6 linked regions of the Homo sapiens genome follow. The protein of the gene in region 1 purifies or fractionates together with the protein of each later gene. This does not show direct contact. Each region holds a gene or a part of one and is shown in the gene's direction. Other genes may lie near its edges. The genes, in order: CITED1, BDH2, STK36, MYO9B, SETX and MGME1.

Region 1 (4,041 bases):
GCCCGGCTGCCCTCTTGTAGTCCGCCGGCGAGGGGCAGTTCTCGGTGAGGAGGAAGAGAGCAGCGGACGGCACAGCACCCGCGCGGGCCCTCCGTGAGTATCCAGTTCAGATTTTGCCACCAACTCGCCCACGAGCCAGGACATGTGCTAATAATGCCCTAAGCCGGTTATAAAGACGTGGAAATTGAGGGGAGAAAAAAAAAGGGAAAAAAAGGGTCTGTCCTTCCTGGGATTCCTAGCCGAGGCCAGTCTGCTGCCGTGTGCGTGTGCGTCAGGGCTCTCCGGGCGGCAATGGGGGCTTGAGAGCCGGGTCCCCAGCGCCGGGAAGGGAGCGCGGTGGCCGCCACCGCCACCGCCCCGGAGTCCGGCGCCGAAGCTGCGGGCGGGCGGGCGGGCACCAGCTCGGTCAGGGGCTGCTTGGCGCGGCACTGTGCGGTGCAGCGGCGGCGCGGCGCGGTGCGGGCTTTTCCCAGGCGCCCCGGGGTCGGGTGGCCAACGGCGCGGCCGCGGGCGCTGAGCGCGACCGGTTCGCGGTAGCGGTGGCGGCGGCGTGCGTGCCAGGGGCTGGGGGCTCCGCCGCCTCTCTTGCGGCTCACCGAGCTCCGCGCTTCCCTCTCTCCAGGGCAGGCGGCTTCTCAGAGGTAAGCCGGGCCGCCGGGCTGGGCGCCGGGCTGGGCGGCGGGGCCGAGGACTCCCGTGGAGCGGGTATGGGGAGTGGGCGGCCGCCAGGCGGGCCGGAGGGTTCTGGGGAGACTTGCTTTCTGTTGGAAAGCTGCTCTGCTGGGGGCGAGGGGCCGCCCGCCCGCCCGCCCGCCAGCGCTCGGGTTCGCTTGCCAGCGCGCCCCCCTGCCGGCCAGCGGGGCCGGGTGCCCGCTTCTCCCGGGGAGACGGCAGCACCTTTTCTCCCTGCGCCCGCGCTTTCTCCAGCTTGGCTTCCACCGACTTTGCTAATCTCCCGGACCGCATCTGGACGCTCTGGCTCCGGAGCTGCACAAAGCTCAGATTTACTTCGGGGAATTGAGGCAAGAGGGGGCTTTTCGGGCCGAGTTCAGCGGAATTGCGGGATGGAAGTTAGCGAATTTGGGCAACTTGCCTCTACTGCCCAGTCGACCTCAGCCCTCCCCTCCCCCGACACACGCCCACACACACACACCCACGCGCACACCCCTCTCCCTATAAACGCGGGCTGGCGAGCCGCGCGCCGAGTCCCTGCTTCGCAGAGCACCGGACTTGGAGTCAGAGAGACCTGGCTGCGAATCCCGGCTCCGCCACTTTCTAGCGCTGTGACCTTGGGCAAGTTACCGCACCTCTCCGAGCCTCTCTCACTCTTCTCCTAGCGGGGTTTTAGCACTGACCGCAGGCGGCTTGGCTAGGGGGTAGGCTCAGCCTGCTGCCGCGTCGGATGCTCAGCGGGCGCTCAGTAAGTGTTGATCAGGCGCGAGAGTGGCAGCAGCCGGCGCCGGAGTGCGGACTCGCCGCGGAGGCCGACACCCCGTGCCCCTTCCTGCCTGTCCATCCTGTCTCTAAGATCAGTTCCTGATACAGCACTTGCGGGAACGGACGCTCAGGGCCCCGGTGGCCTGGGTGCACGCGCCCGCCGTGCAAGGGATGCTCCCGGCCGCCCCCGGTTCCGCGGCTCCATCTGGGATGCGGCGAGGAGGGCAGCCGAGCTGTCCGCAAACAACGGGCCTTTAGTTTTCAGGTGGCGAAACTGACTGGTCTGGTTAGAGCGCGTCCAAGCCAAGCCGCAGTGCTGTTTGGATTTTTAAATTTCTCCTTCTGAGTGAGAAAATAGCAATCGAGATGGAACCATCCGGTTGGTGCCATTTTAACTTTTGGTCCCCCAACAGGTTAAAGATGAGGCCCCCACCTGCCTCTCCCTTCTCTTTTCCCTCTCCCCTTCCCACCCCTGTCTAGGCGGGAGGGGGCTGCTCGCCCAAGGGAAGGCCTGAAGCGAAGAGCGGGCAGCGGGACTGGGAACTGGTGGCCGGGGGGCCGCCAGGCATCAGCCGGCGAGAAGGCACTTGTTGCTCTAGGTTTCCCAGCCGCCTGTCGCAGCCGTTTCGCAGTGGTCAGCTCGCGGCTTGGAGAGCGGGCTGGGACGTTTCCGCGTTGCCAAGTTTTGCCCACGAACGGGCTAGAGGGTGGTGGAGGAGGGCAGAAAGCCGGGGAAGCAGAGCCAGGGATGCCGATGGAAATGCGATTGCTTCTTCAGACGCATTCAACAACACTTACTGAGCGCCTATTGAGCGCAGACCCAGGCTGGGGTCAGGGTGGGTGGTGGGTCAGTAATGGAAGGCAGAAGATCTGAATGGACACAGGGCCTCTTCTGGGGGAGCTCCCAGATTGAAGAGGGAGGCGCGGTAAAATGGTCTTCCCCCACGAACTGATATCAGAATAGAGAGAGTTTTTTTGCTCGTTCTCTCTTTTGATTTTTCTAATGTTTCTCTTTTGGTTTTGCTGTTGTTGCTGCTGCTCCTGTTGTTTTTTCTTCGTTTTGTACATTCGGGTACCAAGCGGCAAAAAGGAGAGGGAAGGCTGGATAGGAACAGGAAAAGATGGACAGGGCCCCCAGACATTTTTCTTAGGACAGGAAAATTGTCTGATACTGATTGTGCTAGGGCTCTTGAAGACGACATGTGTTAGACTTCTTGTCTGGTGATCACTTGCTTTTGAAATATTTTTCTACGGTTGCCTCAGAGAAGGAGCAGGGCTTCAATCAAGCAATGATGCGGGACCCAACAGCTGATATTTTTTCCTCATGTTTTTAAAAAAATGTTTACCCCTTTCTCTATTTTTTCCCTCCCCTACCCCCATCCACCCAAGTAAGCAATGCAAAGATGATACAGAGAGGTAGTAAGTGGCCACTTTCTAGAAGTGTCTGAGCAGATTCTTAATGACCGCTGCGGAGTGGAGAGTGTCACGGAGAATTCTAGCCTCCTTGGAAAGATTAGAGACTCTTTTTAAGGTCCTCAAGATTCTTTGGACCAAGAGGTATTTATAAATATGAAATTCTACATCTCTAATTGATCATGAAAGCTAGAATATATGGGGCTTTTTTTTTTTAAAGAGATAGGGTCCCGCTATGTTGCCCAGCCTGGTATCAAACTCCAGGGCTCAGGTGATCCTCCCACCTCAGCTTCCTGAGTAGCTGAGACTACAGGAGGGTGCTACTGTGCCTAGCTATGGGACATTTTTTTCTTCTTTGTAAACAGGCCTCCAGGAAAATAAGTTGAGATTTTCAGAGGTTTGTTTATTTTCTGGTTTGGAGGTATTCTTTTGCCTTCATTCCCTTATCCTTTGGCACTTGAGCCAGGAAATCACTTCTTTGGAAGCCTTTTGAATCCAGCTAGGTATGATGACTTAGCCAGTGGTCAGGTGAGGCATGTGGCCATAGGGGTGCTAGATTCTGCTCCCAGAACCGCTGCTACCTGACTAAAAAGGCATTGAATCTCTGTGCCTCACTTGTCACTATAGATGGGAATGGCTGGACTCAGGTTTCTGGGGTAGGCATCCTAGGAAAGCCCAATGCTGGGGCTGTCTTGGAGGGGGCTTGAGACATGGAGGAAAGTGACACATTCCTAGCTTCTCTGGCTCCAGCTGCCTCAGAGCCCCCAGACCACCCTAATCAGCCTGGCTTCTCACAGGCATGCCCAAGGTCATGCTTTGGAGCTCCATGACATTTGCGCTAGAGACTTGTTATTTCCCTGTGCTGCAGCCTCTAGCTTTCTAGGTCTTCCTTGCCCTGACTTCTTCTCACATTCTCCCAGTCCCAGTGGAGGCCCCAACTCTCCAGCCTGGATGCTAGTAGCCCATTGAGACAATATGTTGCTTACTCAGGGACATTCCTGTCCTCTGAACCAGGAACAGTGCCACCCTCACCCCCACACATACACCTTGGGACTGTGAAGTCACTTGCATGAGGAAGCAGTATGTCCCATCTTGGTGATATGGGTAGGTGGCTGCCTGGGCAGTACCTGGCCGAATCAAGCACCTTTCCTGCCTCAGGCAAAAGTTCCAGCTTGATCTCCTCCCTGTGCT
Region 2 (3,577 bases), on another chromosome or scaffold:
CTGAAGGAAGGATAAGGTAGGTTAAAGTGCAATATCTGGGCTGGGCACAGTGGCTCAGGCCTGTAATCTCAGCACTTTGGAAGGCTGAGGCAGGTGGATTGCCTGAGGTCAGGAGTTTGAGACCAGTCTGGCCAACATGGTGAAAGCCCGTCTCTACAAAAAATACAGAAATTGGCTGGGCGTGGTGGCAGGCACCTGTAATCCCAGCTACTCAGGAGGCTGCGGCAGGAGAATTGCTTGAACCTAAAAGGCGGAGGTTGCAGTGAGCCGAGATCACTCCATTACACTCCAGCCTGGGTGACAAGAGTGAAACTCCATCTCATAAAAAAAAAAAAAAAAAAAAAAAATGGCCAATGTCTGTCACCAGTCATTACTTCAGTGGGTTATGGTAAATGTGTTTGATATACAAAGCTAGGTATGCAGAGTAAGCATTCTAGGAGAATTCAGATGATGGGACTACTTGCACAGAGGTGCTGTCTTCAAGTTCCTGAAGGAGCTCACTAAATTATTCTTAAAAGAGCACACTGAACTATTCATTCTAGATGTTACTGCCTGCTCAAGATCATGTTCTACAGTATAACCCATTAAACACACATGTCTTTAGATTAAACCACAGGTTCCATTATGGGTCGACTTGATGGGAAAGTCATCATCCTGACGGCCGCTGCTCAGGGGATTGGCCAAGCAGCTGCCTTAGTAAGTTATAAGTTACTATCTTTGTTGTTTGCCTACTAACTCTTGACATATTGAATTATGTGGACTGATGCCATGGTTGTTTACTTCTGCTCTGCTTTTTTATTTTTTTACTTTTGTGCTTCTGTTGTCTTAAGTTATAAAAATAAACAAATAAATAAATAGGTCCCTACTCCTGACCCCAGGCAGATGAAGGAATGAATACCTCATATTTAGTACATGACATCACTGATAACCATTGACTCTGAGAAACTTCTCTACTTCAGTTTCTCTGCATCATGATATATTCGCTACAGAGGGCAAACAGGGTTACACAGCTTTCTGAAATTGTGTCAGTTTAGATATATGACTCCAGAGTTATAAGACAGGTTACCTTGTTCTCCTGATTTATATCAATTTCTGTTACATTATGTACCCCACTTAAGCTAATATCGGCACCTTAAGTATAACAGTACCTTAAGTATAATGGCAGGGTATGGTTTGACATTTATGAAAGCACTAGCATACTCTTAGTAGGAAAAGTGTTGAAACAACCAATTTTTCTCTTATTATTTGGAGTTTAGTAACTCAAACTCAGAAATGATATATAGTCTCATTACAGAAGAGCAGTATTTTGAGAGTATTGAAAACAGCTGTCATTTTTTTAAGAACGTTATTTTGTTTGATATTACTTAAAGGGACTAAGTCAGATGACAAGCACAATGTATGTCACATTGTTCTAATTAATGATAAAAATAATAACAATGGAGAAGGGGTAAGACTAGATAGTTTAAAATTCTAGCTATCTTATAGGGAAAAGAACAATGAAAATAAGATAAAGGAGAAAAAGACCACATGATGTTCCATTCATGAGCACAGTTTATTCAAGTAAACAAAGGATTTATTTGTACTTTGTGTCTACTAGGCTTTTGCAAGAGAAGGTGCCAAAGTCATAGCCACAGACATTAATGAGTCCAAACTTCAGGAACTGGAAAAGTACCCGGGTAAGCAACTCAGCAGCTTGAATTTGGGATTCAGTGTCTGCAAGGTATTATAAAGCATGGCGCTCACATGTTGAAAGAAAATTCCCTAGCTACTGAGCTCCACTGCCGTGCTTTTTAGATTCTCTCTCTGATATGAAATCTATATTTTGTGAACCTATAGACAAAAATCTGTGACTTACATGCATAGAAAAATTTGAGGACGAATACTTAAAATCCTTTATTTAGCTAACACATTTGAGGGATTCAGTTCCTAATTACAAACTTACATGTGAAAATTTACTAGTTGTTAGGTTAACTTTTCATGACAGCTTTTCACTTCTGTGCCCTCCTCCTCTAGGATAGCCCTGTCCAATAGTAACATGTTGTGAGCTGCCTGTGTAATTTTAAATTTTCTAGTATCCACATTAAAAAAGTAAAAAGAATCAAGTGAAAATTAATTTAATAATATATTTTCTTTTATCCAATATATCTAAAATATAATCTCAACATGCACTCAAGTTAAAAAATTAATATTTTAATTTTTTCTTACTAAATTTTTTATTTAAATTATTAGAAGTTTCTTACAAACTTCAAACATTAATTTTCTCCTCTTTGCAGCTTTTCTCTTAATTTTCTCTTCTTTGAGGTATAATTGAGAAATAAAAATTGCATATATTCAAGATGTTCAACATGATGTTTTCATATATGTTGTAAAATACCTTGTGAAATGATTATCACAGTCAAGCTAATTAACATATCCATTACCTCATTTAGTTACCTCTGTGTGTATGTATGTGTGTGCTAAGAATACCTAGGATCTACCCTCTTAGCAAATTTCAAGTATACAATACATTATTAATAACTATAGTCACTGTACTGTATATTAAGTCTTATAACTGCAAGAGTGTACCCTTTGACCAACGTCTCAATATTTTCATACTAAATCTTTAAAATTCATGTGTATTTTACACTTGCAGCACATTTCATTTCAGACTAGCTGCATTTCAGGTGCTCAGTAGCCACATGTGGCTGGAGACAGCTTAGCTCTAAAATCACACATCATCATGAGAAACCCTAAGAGAGTACCCAGATTATTAGGTGTGTACCACCACTTCTTCACCCCACTGAACCAAACTCCAACACCAAAGGATTTTAATTGCAGTTTACCCAAAGAAATCAGAACAGAGAACCTATATGAAAGGTAACCCTTACAGCAAAATAGAACAGGTTACATAATCAAACAGCAATTAGTTCCTTGAATTAGTTAATTGAATTGGAATATGTTGAATTATAATTCAAACAAGTCAAAGTAAAGCTGCTGCACTGGGGAAGCACAAAGATAAGGAAATGTTTCTGAAACAAAATTTCAAGTCTTCCCTTTCTTTATGAATCTTTTATTTCTATATTCCCCCAAAATAAACCATATACATATTATTTATAATATATTATAAATTATAAAATATAATACACATTATAGATAATTATATATTATATGTATTATACATATATTATTATATATTATACATATACATATTAATACATTGTATATATTATAAATTATATTACTATATATTATATGTATTATTCATATATTATTATATATTATATGTATACATATTAATACATTGTATATATTATAAATTATATTACTATATGTTATAATATATATTATGCACATTATAAATAATATGTGTATATATTTATAATGATGACTGCTGCTTTTGTTAGACACTGTTTGGAGTTTCTCAGCAACTAGTGCAGTGTGTATCTCTCAGGTGCCCGCCATGCCAGATCTCTCATGTCTAGCCTTCAAGGGTGTCATCCCTTCTTCTGACCCTCTCATTTCTTCTCCTTGCAGTTTAGTCCAGAAATACATGTATTTGACTGGATACCCTTGACTAACAGAGTCATTTCTAATAAAT
Region 3 (3,577 bases), on another chromosome or scaffold:
TCTAGGGCAAGAGCCTCAGGCCTTTGGAGTTACTCTTTGCTTTTCTCCACAGGAGCCCCGCAAGTGAGCCAGCCACTGCGAGAGCAGAGTGAGGATATACCTGGAGCCATTTCCTCTGCCCTGGCAGCCATATGCACTGCTCCTGTGGGACTGCCCGACTGCTGGGATGCCAAGGAGCAGGTCCGAGCTACAATTGGTTGTTCCTCTCATCCTACTGCCAGAGGAATTGAGGAGGCTAGCCCCAGTTTTTCAGAAAGGCAGAAAAACAAGCTTTTAAGCCCCTCCTTTAGTACTTCCAGAAACAGATGCTCCCACCCTGGGCCATTTGTAGAACATGATATAGCCAGAATCCCAGAGCCCATGGCCAGTTGGTGAGGGAGAGAGCACAGTGATAAACTGCCCAGATGGTGGGGCAGCTGATCTGAAGCCTCCAGTGATGCTTCCTCAAGGGCTGAGAATTCAGCTTTCCTGATCCCTGTTGGTCGGTAATCCTTTCCTCTGTACCTGGCTACACTGGGGCCAAACTAGGCCATGACTTTTGGTTCTCTATTGGTGATGAAGACTGGGAATAGAATGGGGTCTGAGGTTTCTGGTGAATGTGGGAAGAGTGACTAGGAAGAGACTGAGAGTCCTGATCATTTTGGACATATGTGAGGAATAGGGTTGTAATCATGTGGATAGGATTGAGCCTTCAGGTATGTCTCTATAGGTCTGTTGGCATTTGGCAAATCAGCTAACTGAAGACAGCAGCCAGCTCAGGCCATCCCTCATCTCTGGCCTGCAGCATCCCATCCTGTGCCTGCACCTTCTCAAGGTAATCCTCTTAACTCCTGGCATCACAGCTTTATTTTTAACTCCCAGTGCAGACAGAGAAGCAGAGAAACAGACCAAGAGAGGAGGACTAAAAGAGAGAGAGACTGAGAGAGACCATTTGAGACACCCCCTTGGAAGACTCCTTTCTGCTTTTAAATCTGTTCAACTGAGAGGACCCCACTGTTAGCCAGTCCTCAGCGGAACCGAGAAGGGTCCCTGTCTCACTATCTCATAGCAAGAGGCAGAAGGGGGTTCTCTCACACTCCCAAGTGTGGGTACCAGATCTTTTGAGGGGCTGGCCGGTGTTTCCGCTGAGCCTTCAATCTTGGAGCCCGGGGCCTGCCCTGCCTCACTGCCAGACTCCTTCCTTCTCCCTCAGGTTCTATACTCCTGCTGCCTTGTCAGTGAGGGCCTGTGCCGTCTTCTGGGGCAGGAGCCCCTGGCCTTGGAATCCCTGTTTATGTTGATTCAGGGCAAGGTAAGCCAGCTTCCCCTGGCAGCCCCACTGTCTCAGCCAGAGGTTGTTCTGATATCTTAGGTTTCCTTTGTAGGTAAAAGTAGTAGATTGGGAAGAGTCTACTGAAGTGACACTCTACTTCCTCTCCCTTCTTGTCTTTCGGCTCCAAAACCTGCCTTGTGGGTAAGTCATAAAGTAGGGTGTCTCCACAGAAGTCTTCTAGCCACATAGCTAACCCTCACAAAGAGTATGGGGAATGGTACCCTACAGCATATCCTTAGGAGGAATTGGGATAGAGAGCGTGAAGCTTTCTCTACAAAGAACAGACCTAGACTCCCATCAACTTTGTGCCTTGGAGGTAGACATGCAGCCTAGGTGAAGAACACCATGCAAGGGAGAGGGGAGGCCGCTTACCAACCTCCTTTAATACTGCTGCATCCCTTGATGTATCTCTTTATTCCAGAATGGAGAAGCTAGGCAGTGACGTTGCTACTCTCTTTACCCATTCGCATGTCGTCTCTCTTGTGGTAAGTTTTTAACCTTCACCCTCCTCCCCTTTTCACCCTAGCATCTACCCCTTGTGGAAGTGGGGGAGTCACTATCCAATTTGCATCTGTTTCTGGAGGCATTCTTTTGGACCAGGACAGAGACATAAATCCTCTCTGCCTGTCCTGAATGCCATTTAGATTTGGACATTCTTTCTCCTCTTTTACCTCTCCCACAGAGTGCAGCAGCCTGTCTATTGGGACAGCTTGGTCAGCAAGGGGTGACCTTTGACCTCCAGCCCATGGAATGGATGGCTGCAGCCACACATGCCTTGTCTGCCCCTGCAGAGGTGAGGCCCCCCAGGGAGGGCACAGACATGTTTTCTCTGAGTCAGACACTAGGACTGCATTCAAGGGGAAAAGACTGAAATGCCAGCAAGCCTGGAGTAAACTGAGGAATGGAAAAGGAATCAAGGAGCCCTTCCTTTTCTAGATTTGTCGCCGGATGATAGGCCCCTCTGAGCCCAGATTGATCTGGACTTTAGATTTCTTTTTAATATGCAGAGCTTCTAGAGAGTGAGGGAGGGAAGGGAAGAGGAAGGGTGACTAACCTGAGTTTTCTGAGTAGTGTGAGAACCCTGCCTGCTTCGTTCTCCTCCTCCAGAAGCTCATGCTCTTGGCAGAGTCCTTCCTAATGCATAATTTCACCTCTGACTGCAGCTTCCACTCTGCTTTCCCCACTTGTTCTTCTTAACAGATGGAAAAGGTGGCTGACATCCTGTGAATTCTTCAGGAACTCAGTCCATTATGTAGCCTTCTTTCTGCTTTCTCCTTTCCCAGGACTTTTCTTCCTTTCATTTTTAGACCCTTTGGAACTCATCTTTCCTTCATTTTGTAAAAAGAAGGATAGACTTTATAATCAAATTATTGTCATCCCTTTTTTTTTTTTTTTTTTTTTTTGAGATGGAGTTTCACTCTTGTCCAGGCTGGAGTGCCATGGCGCGATCTCGGCTCACCGCAACCTCTGCCTCCTGGGTTCAAGCGATTCTCCTGCCTCAGCCTCCCGAGTAGCTGGGATTACAGGCATGCACCACCATGCCCAGCTAATTTTTGTATTTTTAGTAGAGACAGGGTTTCTCCATGTTGGTCAGGCTGGTCTCGAACTCCTGACCTCACATGTGATCCGCCCACCTCGGCCTCTCAAAGTGCTGGGATTATAGGTGTGAGCCACCATGTCCAGTCTTTTTTTTTTTTTTTTTTTTTTTTGAGACGGAGTCTTATTCTGTCGCCCAGGCTGGAGTGTAGTGGCACGATCTTGGCTCACTACAACCTCCGCCTCCCAGGTTCAAGTGATTCTCCTGCCTCAGCCTCCCAAGTAGTTGGGATTACAGGTATACACCACCATGCCTGGCTAATTTTTTTGTGTGTTTTTAGTAGAGATGGGGTTTCACCATGTTGGCCAGGCTGGTCTCGAACTCCTGACCTCAAGTGATCCATCCGCCTCAGCCTCCTAAAGTGCTGGGATTACAGGAATGAGCCACTGTGCCCAGCCTGCCATCTTTATATATGTAGAATTCTTTTTTTTTTTTTTTTTTTTGAGATGCAGTCTCACTCTGTCACCAGGCTGGAGTGCAGTGGCGTGATCTCGGCTCACTGCAACCTCCACCTCCTGGGTTCAAGCGATTCTCCTGCCTTATCCTCCTGAGTAGCTGGGACAACAGGTGCACACCTCCATGCCCAGCTAATTTTTGTATTTTTAGTAGAGACGGGGTTTCACAATGTTGGCCAGGCTGGTCTGGAACTCCTGACTTCCTGATCCCCC
Region 4 (3,577 bases), on another chromosome or scaffold:
CAGTGGGGTCTGTGAAGGTGCCGGCAGCAGGCGAGCCTGTGACGGGAGCCTGCCTGGCCTGGGGACTCGCTTATGGGGGAAGTGGGAGACCTGAGAGCTTCCCCAGTCAGCCGTGCCCTGGGTCTTCTGCCTGCGAGGTGGGCACCGCTGCTTCCTCACGAGTGAAGTCACAGCAGCACAGCAGCAGTGGGAGGCTCAAGGCTTTGCTGTGGATCTTCCTGGGCTCACTGCTCAGAGCATCTCCACGAGGAGGCGTCTGCCACCTCCTGCATCCCATTCCAGGGCAGACGAGATCGGGGGCAGGAGGGTGACATTTGAGATTTTGATTCCCAGGGTATGGGTACTCACGTGGGGCTTTAATTTCCTGGTGAATGTGCCATGGGGGGCAAGGGGTAGCTTGCCCACTGCTTGGGAAGACCCCTGGGGTCCTTGTCTTGTCACGTGGAGATGCTGTTTATTGGGTAGGCACAAGAACAAGAGAGGCGGAGAAAGTGTGATCGTACTTATTTGGCCCATAGGTGCCGTGGAAACTGGTTCCTTTCCCCTGGGTGGTCCCTCGGGAGTCAGGCCCATGATTTAGCAGGGAAGGGAGAAGGTAAGGGTTGGGGTGTCCTGGAGTGCAGAAAGTGGCCTGAACCGGGGCAGGTACGTCCTCAAGGCTGGCTCCCTCTTGCACTCCGCACTCTCAATATCCTGCAGCCAAGTGAGCGTGGGGTTGGAACCATGCTAACATGTCAAGTGCCCGTGGGTCCTCGAGGAGGCTGAAAGTGTGTGAATCTTGCTTTTTTTTTTTTTTTTTTTTTTGAGACAGGGTCTCACTCTGTCACCTAGGATAAAGTGCAGAGGCATGATCTTGGCTCACTGCAGGCTTGACAACCTCCCTGGGCTCAAGTGATCGTCCTACCTCATTCTCCCTAGTAGCTTGGGACTACAGGCTGTCACCACCACGCCAGGCTAATTTTTGTATTGTTTATAGAGACAGGGTTTCACCATGTTGCCTGGTCTTGAACTCCTGGGCTCAAGTGATCACCCGCCTCAGCCTCCCAAAGTGCTGGGATTACAGGCGTGAGCCACCACGCCCAGCCACTTTTCTGATTGATTTAAAGCATATCTTCTCAGCTGCAGCATTGGTGACATTGGGGGCAGATCATTCTCTTGGGTAGCAGCTGCCGTCTGCACTGTAGGGTGTTGAACAGCATCCCCGGCCTCCACCCTTCAGATGCCAGTAGCACCCCCTGCTCTGTGTCTGGATAACCAGAAATGTCTCCAGACATGGCCAAGTGTCTCCTGGAGGGCAGAGTCAGCTCTGGGTGAGAAACACTAGTTCCGGGTTCTGTTGACTCCTAAGTGACTTTGCGTCTGTCATCATCTGACTGACCGAAGTCCTAGGATGCTGCCCTCTTTTTTTTTTTTTTTTTTGAGACTGAGTTTCGTTCTTGTTGCCCAGGCTGGAGTGCAATGGCACGGCCTCGGCTCACTGCAGCCTCCACCTCCCAGCTTCAAGTTACCGATTCTCCTGCCTCAGCCTCCCAAGTAGGTGGGGTTACAGGCACCCGCTACCACGCCCAGCTAATTTTTATATTTTTAGTAGAGATGGAATTTCACCATGTTGGCCAGGCTGGTCTTGAATTCGTGACCTCAGGTGATCCACCCACCTCAGCCTCCCAAGGTGCTGGGATTGCAGATGTGAGCCACCATGCCCAGCCCGCACATTTAAATACACAAAGTGAATGGGGAAGGAGAGAGGAGAGAAATCAGAGAGGCTAGGTGGATTCTCCTGGTTAATAACCCTTTGGGTTAATAACCCTTTGGGGGCCAAGTGATTACATGCCTGTAATCCCAGCACTTTGGGAGGCGGAGGTGGGAGGATCCCTTGGGCCCAGGACTTCCAGACCAGCCTTGGCAACATAGTGAATCCCCGTCTCTACAAAAAAGATACAAAAATTAGCCAGGTATGTTGACACATGCCTGTGGTCCCAGCTACTCAGGAGGCTGAGGCCGGAGGATCACTTGAGCCTGGGAGGTTGAGGCTGCAGTGAGCCAAGATGGTGCCACTGCACTCCAGCCTGGGTGACAGAGTGAGACTCATCTCAAAAAAAAAAAAAATTATTGGGAATGTATTCTGTGTATTCTGGTATTTAGTGTGAGGAAAGAATCAATTTTTTTCCAAATAATTAATGTAGGGTCTCTCACCCTCAGCACTGCTGATATTTGTGGCTGGGTCCCTCTCTGTGGTGGGACCCTGAGCACCACGGGGTGTGGACCAGCATTTCCAGCCTCAACCTTCTTCATGTTGGTAGCATCCTCCCTGTCCCAACAACCCTTAATATGTCTCTGGGCCAGGCGCAGTGGCTCACATCTGTAATCCCAACACTTTGGGAGGCTGAGGCAGGCAGATCACTTGAAGCTAGGAGTTTGAGACCAGCCTGGCCAACATGGTGAAATCTTGTGTCTACTAAAAATACAAAAAAAAAAAAAAAGAAAAAAAGAAAAACACACACACACACAAAATTAGCCAGGTATGGTGTGGTGCACCTGTAATCCCAGCTACTTGGGAGGCTGAGGCAAAACAATCGCTTGAACCCGGGAGGTGGAGGTTGCAGTGAGCCAAGATCATGCCACTGCACTCCAGCCTGGGCAACAGAGCAAGACTCTGTCTCAAAGGGAAAAAAACATGTCTCGGGACAGAGGTTGCCAAGTGTCCCTGAGGACAGAGTCAGCTCCAGGGGAGAAACAATGATATAGAAGAACACCAAGCTTTTGAGGGGCAAGCAGAGCCTGTTGAGACCTACAGGTCAAGCCCGTGACTGGCCTGAGGTGACTTCTTTCTCCCCTGCCTTTGTGGTGTGATCACCAGGGTCCCTGGCACAGGGATGAGCTTCAAGGGGAGCTGGGGAGTGGCTGTTTCACCGAAGACACTGGTGGCAGCAAATCCTGAGACCATTGTCCCCCACCATCCAGTTCCGCTCTCAGGTGATCAGAAAATGGAACGAGCTCCCTGTGTCCTTTGTAGAAACCAGGCAGAGGGTGGGTTTCATGGCCAGGAGGAGGAGCATCTGTCTGAAGGCCGCAAGGGCTGGGTCACAGATGGGCAGCATTGGGAGATCCTGGCAGGCAGAGAGCACTCCACGTGGAAACTAGAAGCATGGGGCAGATGGGGGGCCAGGTAGCGAGCCACCTAGGCAGCTCAGCAGATGTGGAGAATGGGAATAAACTTGGGGGGTCTTTGGGGGAATCAGTGGGATAGGTGATAGCTAAAAGGTACAGGGTTTCTTTTTAAGGTGATGTAAATGTTCTAGCCAGGGGCAGTGGCTCATGCCTGTAATTCCAGCTCTTTGGGAGGCTGAGGCAGGAGAATCACTTGAGCCCAGAAGTTTGAGACTGGCCTGGGCAACATAGGGAGATCCCGTCTTTAATAAAAAAAAAAAAAAATTGAAAAATTTACCGAATGTGGACTTGCACCTGTAGTCCCAGCTACTCCAGAAGCTGAGGTGGGAGGATTACTTGAACCCAGGAGTTCGAGACCGGCCTGGGCAACATAGGGAGACCCCTGTTCTTACCCTGGGGATGGCTTTCC
Region 5 (3,577 bases), on another chromosome or scaffold:
TTGAAGTTTCTGGCTAGTTAATGTTGAGAAATGGATAGCCTAAGGATAAGTCTGTAGAAAATTACAGTAATACCTATGGTGAAGCATCCTATATTTTTGGTTTTGACACATTAGCTCTCTTTTTGGTGGGTGCTCAGAGAGTTGCTTTAATTTTGGTTTTGCAACTTGAGTATTGTCTGGACACACCCATTTGTCATTCACTAATGATTGCAAGCCGTTACAGTCTGATGAAACTAACAAAATAGACCTCAAGAAGAACTGAGTTGTATAAAAGCTTAAGAGGATTCACAGTAGTTTAGAAGCAATAATTTTCTCCTTAAAGACAAAATATGCCCTATTGAGGTTTCCTGGGCTTAGCCATTAGGCCAGTGATGATTTTAAATTTGAAGACAAAACCACACACACAGCCTTTTGAAGAAGAACCATGGAAGCACATGTTCTCTTGTTGGTGTGCTCTGCAGCAGTATTCTCCGTTATCTTCTAGCGGCCATGACACTCACCTATTTTGGTAGTAACTCCTATATATTTTGAGAAAATTTAGTCTTGCTTTTTTGGTTGTGGAAATAGGCTAGTTTTCTAAGTGAAATAAAAAGCAAATTCTGTAATTTTCTTAATAGAAGGTTTCTTTTGTTGTCTCCTTTGTTAGTACTTATTTTAAAGTACACAACATTTGGAGCTTCAAGTAAGGTAAGTGGGAAAAGAAGTATGCAACATTTTATTTGCATGGTAGTCTCACTTAAGTTTTTTAAAGCTTAAATTGGCTGCAGTCTGTTAGCTGCTGAAATCATGCTTCAAATGTTTGAGAAACCTCCATGAAGTTTCACTTTCTGTTCTTACGTCTTCTAAGTTCACTTTCCATATTAAACTAGGTTACCGGAAAAAAAAACAGCTTCTGCAAGCTGTTAACTTACTAGTAGTGTGATGTTGGCCTCTTAGGTATAAGTAATTCTTCTTTTGAATAAAATAATTTTAAATTCTGCAGAAATACATTGAAGACCTTATCCCATGTTACTTGGCATTTCCTAGTCTGCAGTGCCCTTGTACTAGAAGGCATTAATAAAATGTAATTGAGTTAGAGTTTGTGTCAGGAAAGGGCGGTACTCTGCGGCTATCACTGCATACTCTTTTTCCCCCCCACGTCGATGAGAACTGTGTAACTCATGTTATCCTTTTTCTCTGCTTTCAGGAAGCTCCTCATGTAGAACTTAGTGAAATTAAATTTCTTCTAAAGAAGTTTTGATTTTGTTTTTTGAAATCTCATTTTTAAATGTCCTTTTGTGTGTATGTACTTTAATGTTGAAAGCTACCCTAAATTCTTTTTAGAACCATGAAGAAAGTATACCTCTTCAAAAGCATAAGTAAAAGTAATATTTAATAAATTTTAAAAAATCAATTCATATGACAATGTATTTGATTATGCTTATGCATTTCTAAATAATTATTTAATTGTGGGTATAAGAAGAAATTAAAGAATTTTAAAAAATCACTTTATTTTAGGAACTAGCTTTATGCCACAGAAGCCTCAGCAGCCAAGCCTAGTTTCTGTTGAGATGTTTTATATTTCCTGTTGGTAAAGATTATGTATTCTGAATTTTAGGGTGACGGTGATACTCAAAAATCTCACACTGCCATGTTTCCATTCCCACATACTCAGTGTCTTCACTTAGGTTTCTTTTGTTTGTTTGTTTTGAGACAGAGTTTCACTCTGTCACCCAGGCTGGAGTGCAGTGGCGCAATCTTGGCTCACTGCAACCTCTGCCTCCCACGTTCAGGCAGTACTCCTGCCTCAGCCTCCCAAGCAGCTAGGATTGCAGATGCGCACCACCAGCTAATTTTTGTATTCTTTTTAGTAGAGATGGGGTTTCACCATGTTGGCCAGGCTGGTCTCGAACTGCGGACCTCAAGCAGTCTGCCCACGTCGGCCTCCCAAAGTGCTGGGCTTACAGGCATGAGCCACCGTTCCCAGCTTACTTAGGTTTTTTAACCTCCTTCTAACCTTTCTCCCTGAGTGGAGAGTTTTTAAACATTTTTAAAAACTGCCTCTCCTGTGAATTTTATTACCACCAATATATTGTGTCTCTCTTTATGTACTGTATGTTTATCTGAGCTTTATATCTAAAAAGAGGAGGGCTTTTTCACGTCCCACTAACTAGTTTTAGATCTCTTTGAGGGTGACATCACTCCTGATGAGAATGCTGAGCTAGGTCCATTCAGTTTATGAAATGAACTTAAGTTTGTAGTTGGTAACTTTTTTCCCCATTCCAAAATCTGTACTTTGAAAATATTGGTAAGTCTGGGTCTCTATATATTTTCTATCGGTACTGTGTTGTTTTGAGCCTTCTCTGTAGCACAACTTTATGTTGCCTTATGATACTTATTCCTTATACAATGCTTTTATTTTTCTGTATTTTTCGTATGTCAAAAATAGAAGGATTTTTTTAGTTTAGTGAATCAGTGATTGATAAGCCAGCCAGCAGAAGATTTGGGTTTTAGTGACACATTTTAAATTGAAACCAGGGTCACAAGTTGAAAGTGTACCTATTCTTGACACACAGTAGGTCTGAAGTTGGTTTTCTTCTTGATGTCATCTTTTCTGGCTGTAGGTACAGAATGAGCACATGTTGTTGGTGTACGCCAGGTGGTGCTTCCACCATTGACTTCCTAAAGCGCTATGCTTCCAACACTCCGTCCGGTGAATTTCAAACAGCCGACGAAGACCTCTGCTACTGCTTGGAGTGTGTGGCTGAGTACCACAAAGCAAGAGATGAATTGCCATTCTTGCATGAGGTAAAATATATTAGATGGGCAATATTTTTCAGAGCTTGATAGCTGGGAAGAGAGTAAGTTTGAACTCCGTTGGAAGTATTCAGAGAAATGATGATACGATTTCAACTTTGTGGGTTTTTTTTTTTGTTTTTGTTTTGTTTTTGTTGTTGTTAGAGATGGAGTCTCACTCTGTCACTCAGGCTGGAGTGCAGTGGAGTGATTATACATATATCATTTTACACATTCGAGTATATTCTTAGGACAAATTCCTGAAAGTGGAAGTGCTGTCTCATGATTTTCCATGGGCCACATGGGTTTTCATAGTTTGTTTTGCTATGTTTTGGAGACAAGGTCTTTGCTCTGTTGCCCAGGCTGGAAGTGCAGTGGTGCGATCACGGTTCACTGCAGCCTCAACCTTCTGGACTCAAGCCATCCTCCCACCTCATCCTCCTGAGTAGCTGGGACTACAGGCATGTGCCACCATGCTCTGCTAATTTTTAAAATTTTTTTGTAGAGACGAGGTCTTATTATTTTGCCCAGGCTGGTCCTGAACTCCTGAGCTCAAGTGATCCTTCCGGTTTGGCCCCCCAGTGTTGGAATTACAGGCATGAGCCACCATGCCTGGCCGACTTTGAAGGCTAATATAAGTCAAGTACCTAACTCATTGCCTGGTATATACTAGGTGCTGAGTAAATGTTTATCACGGATGGAATTGAAACCTGGATCAGAATTTTATGATCTGTTGCTTTTAGTCACATTGGTATAAAATAATTTAATGAAATAAAGTCATTGGGAGGGGATTTGTTTCATA
Region 6 (2,880 bases), on another chromosome or scaffold:
ATCTCTATTTTTATCCCATTGCTTAACGTCTTCCTTGTTCCTTTCCCACTTAAAAAAGCACTTTTTGGCTGGGCACAGTGGCTCACGCACTTTGGGAGGCCGAGGCAGGCAGATTGCTTGTGCTCAGGAGTTTGAGTCCAGCCTGGGCAACATAGTGAAACCCCGTATCTACAAAAAAAATACAAAAATTAGCTGGACATGGTGGCGCACACTTGTGCCAGCTACTTGGGAGGCTGAGGTGGGAGGATTGCTTGAGCCCAGGAAGTGGAGGTTCCAGTGAGCCGAGATTGTACCACTGCACTCTAGCCTGGCCGACAGAGCAAAACCCTGTCTCAAAAATAAATAAATAGGCCAGGTGTGGTGGCCCAAGCCTATAATTCCAGCACTTTGGGAGGCCGAGTTGGGCAGATCACCTGATGTCAGGAGTTCAAGACCAGCTTGGCTGACATGGCGAAACCCTGTCTCTACTAAAAATACAAAAATTAGCTGGGCGTGGTGGTGTGTGCCTCTAGTCCCACCTACTTGGGAGGCTGAGGCAGGAGAATCGCTTGAACCCAGGAGGCGGAGGTTGCGGTGAGCCAAGGTTGTTCCACTGCACTCCAGCCTGGGCAACAGAGCAAGACTGTCTCTCTCCAAATAAATAAATAAATAAATAAATAAATAAATAGCACTTTTTGGCCAGGGGTGGTGGCTCATGCCTGTAATCCCAGCACTTTGAAGGAGGCCGAGGTGGGCAGATTGCTTGAGCCCAGGAGTTCAAGACCAGCCTGGGCAACGTGACAAAACTCCATCATTACTAAAAATAGAAAAATCAGCCGGAAGTGGTGCCCGCCTCAGCTTCGAGGGTGCAACGAGCCGAGATTGTGCCACTGCACTCCAGCCTGGACGATGGGAGTGGGATCCTGTCTCAAAAAAGAAAAAAAAAGCACTTTTCCACCCTCTTCTTGGGCCTTTTTTTTTTTTCAATGGCTCTGTAAGGATCACAGCCCAGTCTTCAATGTTTTATCTGTCATCTTTGTGTTCTTGTGTCCTGGTGCAGTCTTTGATCAACCTACCTTAGAAACTGAGTTAGGAGATATCCTGTAGATTATTTTATACTGAGTTTGCCCTGGAGTAAGAAGGAAACGAACCTAAACTCTGGACCTACTGTAGTGAAACGAGAATTGCCCTGTGTTTCTTCCTAGGTTCAATGTGGCTTAATTGTGGTGGCCTACAAAGATGGATCACCTGCCCACCCACATTTCATGGATGCAGAGCTCTGTTCCCAGTACTGGACCAAGTGGCTTCTTCGACTAGAAGAATATACGGAAAAGAAAAAGAACCAGAATATTCAGAAACCAGAATATTCAGAATAGGGAGCAAGTTGCTATTTGGGAACATTCAGCACCTTCTCACAGTTTGGGAACATATATTGCTGTTTACTCCAGTGTAAAAATGAGGTGCCACTGGATCTGAGTGCTACACGAACACAAGTAGAAGTATTAATTTGTTGAAATGTGTTGTTACCAAAAAGACTGAAAAGCCCCAAAGTCTAGATATAAAGACCTAGACTTCGGCACGCGAAATCCCAGCTATGCTACCTCTTATTTACCTGAAAGGAGGACACGCAGGATGGGCAGTCATGCTGGTGACTCTTGTACTCCCTTGAGGGACATTGGGGGGGGGGGGGCGTGGTCCCAGGCAGGATGCCCAGTCTTTGAGCTGAGATTGGAAGGCAGTGAGGCTGAGGGTGCCAAGATTTCCCCAGGGTTCACCCAGAGGGGAAGGGGCTACATGCCCCCAGCTGTGTGCAGGGAGGACACATCAGCCCACTACCGCTGCCAACACCAATGCCTAAAACTTGTTTCATACATTGGGGTTTTCTATATATTTCAGCTGGGAAAAGCTTACATTTAACCTTTTGAAAAAATAAATACGTGATTAGCCTCAACTAAACATTGCTGACTATAAAGACAGTATATTCACCATGTCGCTGGCAATATGTCATTGCGTAACACCAAATAACCCCCCAGAAGTAGCCAGAGGCCAGTTTGAACATCACAATTCTAAGTGTTTTAGTAACTATTTCTGGCGTGAGTCAACAGATCATGTAGATAGAGTCAATTATTGTTTGTGGAGTTTTTCAGCTATAGGGGAGGGGAACTATTAAAATCCATTTGTTTCTATTCAATAGGTAATAAAAATTAGTTGTCCCTGGGTTTGGGAAACTTAAATGCCCATTACAGCCCTGGGGAAGGGTTTTCTGTCTTATGGAGTGAGTCTTAGCATTTAAGTTATACAGTTGCTGCCTTAAAATAGTAGCCTGCTACAATGACTTCTTTGGGTAGCCATTTTCATAAGAAATAAAATACAAGATATGAGTAATGAAGCTTTGGTTTTGTTTACTTTGTGTGTTTATAGGATAATTTTATAAACCTGGAAATTGTTTGCACTTTTTTTATAATTCAGAATTTTACAAGCCCAATAGCTTTGGTGAGAGTTCTGTGTAAGTGCATAAAAGAAAGCGTCCTCGGCTGGGCGCAGTGGCTCACGCCTGAAATCCCAGCACTTTGGGAGGCCGAGGCGGGCGGATCACAAGGTCAGGAGATCGAGACCATCCTGGGTAACACGGTGAAACCCCGTCTCTACTAAAAATACAAAAAATTAGCTGGGCGTCGTGGCGGGCGCCTGTAGTCCCAGGTGCTCCGGAGGCTGAGGCAGGAGAATGGCGTATACCCGGAAGGCGGAGCTTGCAGTGAGCCGAGATCACGCCACTGCACTCCAGCCTGGGCGACAGAGCGAGACTCCGTTTAAAAAAAAAAAAAAAAAAAAGCCTCCTCACTAAGCCCTCAGCCACGGTCACCTAGCAAGGAAAGCAATATTCAGGTAGGAGATGGGAGG

What was found.
Region 2: the proteins of CITED1 (region 1) and BDH2 purify together in Homo sapiens (affinity purification with mass spectrometry; one large-scale study listed by BioGRID and IntAct). This does not show direct contact.
Region 3: the proteins of CITED1 (region 1) and STK36 purify together in Homo sapiens (affinity purification with mass spectrometry; one large-scale study listed by BioGRID and IntAct). This does not show direct contact.
Region 4: the proteins of CITED1 (region 1) and MYO9B purify together in Homo sapiens (affinity purification with mass spectrometry; one large-scale study listed by BioGRID and IntAct). This does not show direct contact.
Region 5: the proteins of CITED1 (region 1) and SETX purify together in Homo sapiens (affinity purification with mass spectrometry; one large-scale study listed by BioGRID and IntAct). This does not show direct contact.
Region 6: the proteins of CITED1 (region 1) and MGME1 purify together in Homo sapiens (affinity purification with mass spectrometry; one large-scale study listed by BioGRID and IntAct). This does not show direct contact.

The regions. Positions count from the first base shown.
Region 1 is NC_000023.11:72,303,077-72,307,117, reverse strand, and holds the start of CITED1 (cbp/p300-interacting transactivator 1), read left to right. Parts: upstream 1-1,203; 5' UTR 1,204-1,293; intron 1,294-1,695; exon of another isoform or gene 1,696-1,803; coding exon of another isoform or gene 1,804-1,816; intron 1,817-4,041. UniProt on the Homo sapiens protein: Transcriptional coactivator of the p300/CBP-mediated transcription complex. Enhances SMAD-mediated transcription by strengthening the functional link between the DNA-binding SMAD transcription factors and the p300/CBP transcription coactivator complex.
Region 2 is NC_000004.12:103,093,302-103,096,878, reverse strand, and holds part of BDH2 (dehydrogenase/reductase SDR family member 6), read left to right. Parts: intron 1-604; 5' UTR 605-624; coding exon 625-696; intron 697-1,597; coding exon 1,598-1,676; intron 1,677-3,577. UniProt on the Homo sapiens protein: NAD(H)-dependent dehydrogenase/reductase with a preference for cyclic substrates. Catalyzes stereoselective conversion of 4-oxo-L-proline to cis-4-hydroxy-L-proline, likely a detoxification mechanism for ketoprolines.
Region 3 is NC_000002.12:218,692,531-218,696,107, forward strand, and holds part of STK36 (serine/threonine-protein kinase 36), read left to right. Parts: intron 1-52; coding exon 53-180; intron 181-709; coding exon 710-814; intron 815-1,192; coding exon 1,193-1,291; intron 1,292-1,364; coding exon 1,365-1,453; intron 1,454-1,733; coding exon 1,734-1,797; intron 1,798-1,994; coding exon 1,995-2,105; intron 2,106-3,577.
Region 4 is NC_000019.10:17,082,245-17,085,821, forward strand, and holds part of MYO9B (unconventional myosin-IXb), read left to right. Parts: intron 1-3,577. UniProt on the Homo sapiens protein: Myosins are actin-based motor molecules with ATPase activity. Unconventional myosins serve in intracellular movements. Binds actin with high affinity both in the absence and presence of ATP and its mechanochemical activity is inhibited by calcium ions.
Region 5 is NC_000009.12:132,348,462-132,352,038, reverse strand, and holds part of SETX (probable helicase senataxin), read left to right. Parts: intron 1-2,603; 5' UTR 2,604-2,610; coding exon 2,611-2,787; intron 2,788-3,577. UniProt on the Homo sapiens protein: Probable RNA/DNA helicase involved in diverse aspects of RNA metabolism and genomic integrity.
Region 6 is NC_000020.11:17,988,755-17,991,634, forward strand, and holds the end of MGME1 (mitochondrial genome maintenance exonuclease 1 isoform 2 precursor), read left to right. Parts: intron 1-1,184; coding exon 1,185-1,355; coding exon of another isoform or gene 1,356-1,432; 3' UTR 1,433-2,368; downstream 2,369-2,880. UniProt on the Homo sapiens protein: Metal-dependent single-stranded DNA (ssDNA) exonuclease involved in mitochondrial genome maintenance. Has preference for 5'-3' exonuclease activity but is also capable of endonuclease activity on linear substrates.